2 separate regions of the Homo sapiens genome follow, and region 2 is linked to region 1. A link means that fine-mapping ties the variant in region 1 to the expression of a gene that starts in the linked region. Tissue or cell type: whole blood. Region 1 holds a variant in brackets; the other region holds the start of a gene. All regions are shown on one strand. Distances are between the middles of the regions.

The links. PIP is the estimated chance that this variant, and not a neighbour inherited with it, causes the effect.
Region 2: it holds the start of RCBTB1, and the variant in region 1 is fine-mapped to the expression of RCBTB1 in whole blood (GTEx, PIP 0.90). The same link has a PIP of 0.9 or more in monocytes.

The regions. Positions count from the first base shown.
Region 1 is chr13:49,526,169-49,528,926 of GRCh38, reverse strand. It overlaps SETDB2-PHF11 (SETDB2-PHF11 readthrough), which reads right to left. Exons shown (of 21, transcript NR_135324.2): 20 at 2,469-2,540; 21 at 1-416. PHF11 (PHD finger protein 11) reads right to left here. Exons shown (of 10, transcript NM_001040443.3): 9 at 2,469-2,540; 10 at 1-416. The coding sequence ends at 262. Among named protein-coding and RNA genes, the nearest start is that of PHF11, 32 kb to the right of the region's middle. The variant G/A (reference allele first, on the strand shown) is at 1,537.
Region 2 is chr13:49,583,898-49,586,655 of GRCh38, reverse strand. It overlaps RCBTB1 (RCC1 and BTB domain containing protein 1), which reads left to right and starts at 1,098. Exons shown (of 13, transcript NM_018191.4): 1 at 1,098-1,212. RefSeq lists a silencer at 865-1,574.

The sequences.
Region 1 (2,758 bases):
AGAATCAAAGGTTAAGAACATTTTATGCACTTATTCCACAAACATTTACTGAGCATACTAGGTGCTGGGAATGTGACAGTGAGCAAAAAACACAAGAGTGTGCAAAGAGTGATCAAAATGTCAACCAGTAAGAACAGGGAAGAGCTGCTGAGGCCAAGAGGAGACGACTAGTTCTAAAGATGTGTGGATTTCACAGCCTGGTCTCTGGTTTTGAGCCTGATTGCAATTTGACATGACTCTTGGCTTAGGAAACGGTAATCCCTAATAAGACAGGGATGATATTGATGTAGAACTTGACATAAGATCTCTATTTTCTTGAAAAGAGCACAAGGTTTGTTTTAAGTCCTGAAGTAGCTCAATCTCTTCCTTCAACTGCTGCCACCTTTGTTGAGATGCATGAATTTTTTTCTCTATTGCTATGAAAAGAAGAAATAAAATTATTTCAGCTTATTCAGTAGTTTTATTAGAAATAATGTACCATTTCTAGCCCCTTTCACTTGCAGGTACAGATACACAATCCTCGTGCCTCTGGTGAAAAGGATCCAGAGCCTTATGGGCAGGAGCTGGTTTCTTTATGCCTTCACTTCCTCCTTCTAATTCAGGACAGAATTCTAACATTTATCATACACAAAGCTGTTCAGTAAACCCTTAAGATTTTGTGCACATTTATAGCAGAACAAGTCCCTTTGTATATCTTTGAGAACTTGAAAACAGTGACTGTATAACCTTCATGCTATACTATATCCATTTATTGAGAGATGATAATTGGAGAATGTGGCTAGAATACCAAGGTTAAGGACAAATCCTTCCTAAAAATGTGTCCAATTTTTAATGTTACATAAAGGCTTTTGGTTTCATTTAGAAATAGGAAGGCTTTTAATTGTGGAAACTTAGAAAAGCTTAGGAGGAAGATACTTAGGCTTTATAAATAACAAATAGTAGTCAATGGCAATGTAATTTTTAAAAGCCTCAAAATCGAACAGTTACACACATATACAAACTTTATTCAGAATAACTGCATACGTATAGTTAACTTAAAATATGAGTAAGGCTAAATTAAGCAAGTTTTTATCAACCAGGGTAGTGAAACCCAACTTAAGCCTTTTAAGTTGAATCTCATGCAGTTCTAAGTAGTGGCACCCCCGCCATACTACACTATAATATATGTACTCCCACCTAATCCATCCAAGTAGTGATGTGTGACATGTTCCCTTACATGAAAGAAAAACACACATGGAAGTCCCCTACAAAATAACTCTTTTTAGAAAAAAATTTTTAAGGCTGCTTTAAAAAAATATGGATACTGCTATATATTAGCAGACATCCTCAAAAGACTATTAAGACAGACACTCTTTTTGGTAGATTTTTCAAAGTATTTTTCCTGCTGGTTATAAATGTAGTAAAAAATTCAAATAGAAATGTATAATATAGAAGCCAAAATGAGAAAGGTTGTGTATGTTGAGACAGGGATATGAACTAATGATTTCTTCACAGGGAAATCTTATTGTCTTCCTACCATATGCTGGAGAGACAGAT[G/A]CATCTGTGGAAATGCAGAGTGTGGAGGGCACTCACTCTGTTGTGCAACTTCAGGGGGAGCCATCCACCAATGCTGTTTGACTCTGTGCCCGGCCTGCCCAGCTGTGTGTGGCAGCCTTGATAGAGAAGTCAGACCAGACTCATAAACAAGTGGAGGTGTAGCCTGTCTTGAGGGCATCTTAATGCTGAAAGGAGGACTCACTCAATAAATGGTTGATATTTAATAGGAAGGTTAAATCTCCCTCCTCCAAACCAAACGAGATTTTCTACTGCAAACATTTCTTGGCTATTCTTACTTGCTCATTTTTTGTTTGTTTGTTTTTGTTTTTTTTTTTTCTGATGAACTTTAAATCAGTCGTAACCCTCCCTGATAAGAAATTAAATTAGATTTGAGGATTAATAGTGGGAGAATTAAAATTTTGACCTATCTCACCAAGCGAGAGGGAGGCAAGCGGAGGGATGGTTTATCATAGCCTCGCCACCCAAGAGCAGAGAAGCCGCAGGAAGCTTTACCAGCTCCTGCCTGGGCCACACACAGGCCAAAATATGCTCCAATTTTTGAATCAATTTTTTGTTGTCTCTACTTTTTTAATGAGTTTTTCTCATTATAAAAGTATTTGTGTGTATATAGAAAATCTGGAAAATATAGCAGTAAAAGAACAGACAAAAATCACTATATTCCAACTACCTACAACCAACTACTGTCTCCACCAGGTGCAGCTTTTGTCTGTGCACATGTACCTCGATATTTTTTTCCTGTGTGTGTGGGCAGGTGGGCGGGGTCATACTGTTTTTGTAATTGGCTTTTCTCATTTAAGAAAACAATGAACATTCTTCTAAAATATTTTTATCACCTGTACAGTATATTGTTTCAATATCGTGATAAATATTTCTCAAAACTATGCTGCTCAGATGTTATATAACTCATATACCTGCTTGAAAATTTACAAATGTGTCTTCGAACAATCTACAGTCAAAAAGTGCACTCCCGATTTCTTCATAGTCTGGAGGGAGAGAAACATTTTCAATATTAAACAGTTTGTATAGGCAGAAACTCCTCCATTTATATATGTAATCCAAAACAGGGGAAAGGAAAGAGAGCAGTCATGTGCCATGGAACTTTAATGTTAGATGGCAACAGCAGCAGCAGCACTACAGGGAAGCTGTCAGAAATGTAATTCTTGGCATTTCTCTTTTTTCTTTTTTTTTTTTTTTTTTTTTT
Region 2 (2,758 bases), 58 kb before region 1:
AGGAGTAAAGAAACTTAGAGAAAAAGTAAATAATCCAAAGAAAGTTGAGTAGTCAAGGAAAACAAATTATTTGTAGCCAGAGCCTCCAGTAATGTTGGGGAAGTGGCAAGAGATGAGGGACGGTAGGACTTTTTTAATAATTCAAGTTACCAAAAGTGAAGTTATCTGGTGATATTTAGAAAATGAAATGTTTTTCTGTTTATTCCTAGGAGCTCAAATGGGAAAGGTAAGTGAACAAGTGGCTGGAATGCTATGCCAACAAGTTTGGATTTTATCCTGCAGCGCCAACTGGGAGTTCTCCGAGAGCTGTATGGTATTTTACAAAGGGACTGTAGTCTTTATAGGTGATAGGCTGGAGCAGCTCGTAGCAGTCCCTCTCCTGGCCTCAGTTTACTCGCTGGTAACACGAATCCGGTTGGACCAGATGCCCTCTTAGGTCCCGTCTAACCTCTATGGCATGCTTCCGAGGTACCTCTGCCTCTTTCCAATACCAGGACCTGTGCCTCATCTCGTCCTTCCTTCATACCTTTGTCCAGCTGCCACCTTCCCTAGTCCCTGGCCTGCCTCAGGTACTTTCAATCAGGAAGTGAGGGGCGGGGAGGGAGGGAGGCGCGTCTCCAGTAAAAACAAACTAGTCCCAGCTCCGCCGCCTTTCCTCCCAGGCAGCACCACCTGGGTGGTGCCCCGGGGCCAGACGCGCTCTAGAGTGGGCAGGGAGCCAAGTTTCTCGGTCGCTTTTCCGTCCTAGGTCTCTGGGGTGGTAGGCCGACCCTCCCCACAGCCAAGCCATCTCGGGGAGCAGAGCAGGAGCCCGTGCCTCGCGCGTTCCTGGTTCCTCAGACACAAAAGCCTCTAAGTCCCGGCAGCAGCCACCGGATTTCATGGGGACACTCCAGTGGCAGGGCCTCGGGGCGGGCCTGAGACGGCCAATCGGCTTCTAAAGAAGTCGGGTTGTAGGGCCCGAAGAGCAGGGTTTCGGCCGGGGCCGGGGCCGGGGCGGTGCGGGATGCTCGGCTGGGTAGCGTCCCGGGCGCGCGCTGCACCGGGTCACGTGAGGCGGCCGGGGCCACGTGACCCGGCGGGCCCGGCGCCCTGGCGCTCCTCCTCTTCGCTGCCGGTGGGCACCGCCGCTCGCTCGCACTTCTGCGCCCATTGGAGCTTCGGAGATCCCTGCGGTCCCGCGGGACGGCGCGGCAGCAGCTGACCTCGCAGGTAGCGTGTGGGCGCGGGGTCGAGCTCGCGGAGGCCTCTTCCCCCTCGGCCCTGCCCCTGCTTCCCTTCCCCGCAGGCCGGGCCGGGAGTGCCCCGTTACTCCTGTACCTCCCGCCTCCCTCGCTCGGGCTCCCGGGCAGTCCCTGCGGGCGCTGCGTCCGGGGCGAGGGATGGGGTCCCCGGCCCGGCCCCGCCAGCACCTCAGCTAATGTGCTCTCCTGCGAGGAGGAGGGAAGGATGGGGAGAGGCGAGGGAAAGTTTTCCCTGCCTCCCTCTCTTTTTTGAGGTGCACGGACTCGATTTTGCTCGTAGCTGAAGTCTGACTGCTGTGGGTGCCGTTTTACTGAGAGGAGATCTCCCCTCCGACTCTTCCTATTCTCTCTCCTTTCCAAGATCTTAGCATCTCTCCTTCGTCTCCTGAGAGTAGTGCTGTCACAAACCGTATTCTTTATCGTTTCCCTTTCCGACACAGAATCCACAAAGGCAGGGATTTTGTTAGTGAGGACTTTTATCCAGGCGTGCGGTGAACTCTAAATAAGTGACGTTTCCCTTGTCTGCCTCTGATAAAGTACCTACCTGCTCGGTTTAAGATGACTATCGAGCACGCTGTGTTCTGCTCGCATAAGTGGCCTTTTGTTTTTATTTATTTGCATGTAAGACACTTTCAAGCCATCTGCGGAACTCTGCAGCTGGGGATTACAATTTTATAAAGCAGTCTTGTAATAATGCTTTTAGAAAACCAGATTCATGATCTTCCTTGCTTTTGCCCTATTCTTTTTTTGGGAGGACTAAAAGCCCTTAGAGGACAAAAACTGAGTTTCTGAAACTGGTGTGTATTGTGGGCTAATAACATTAAAACATCAAAGTATATAATGCCGGAAGGAATGGAAAAATGATTGAATCCTGAGGGCAGTTTATAGGTGCTTTAAACTTTAGAGTACTCATTTCAAGTGAGCACTGGGTGAATTTCACCCGTTTAAACTGCTTTCAGGGTCGAGGATGTAACTGTATATTTGGATTCTATTAATATAACAGTTCATCTGTGGGATGGACTTTAATCCATTTAATCCATTGTGTGAATATCAGTCTATTTATTAATACTCTAGACGGGTCCTTTTTCTTCTACCCGCTAGTCTGTTTCTCTTGAAGAGGAAGCATATTCATCTTTAAAGAGATTTTTGCAAGTGATTTTTTTAAGTGTGTGATCCAAATGATAAAGTTCTGTGAACTTCAGAAAACAAGTAGCCATAAAAACCCAAAGCTGTCAAGCTTGTAGCTTTTAAAAAATGATTTGAAAATTTTAAAGCGTGCCCGTATGCTGCAGCAAGAACTTGGCTCCACCTAATATACGGGAGCTGGGAAGTCTGAAACAGTACCCTCCTTTTCCTGGGAGTCATTGTGGGGTAGATGAAACTGTGAAGGAAAGTGAGGACCTTTATTATGATGATGATATCCCTTCTGTGTGTACTACATTAAACAGTAAGTCATGCATAGGAAAGGAGGCTGGGGCCTCACAGAGTCTAGAATCTAGGCAGGGCATTCGGAC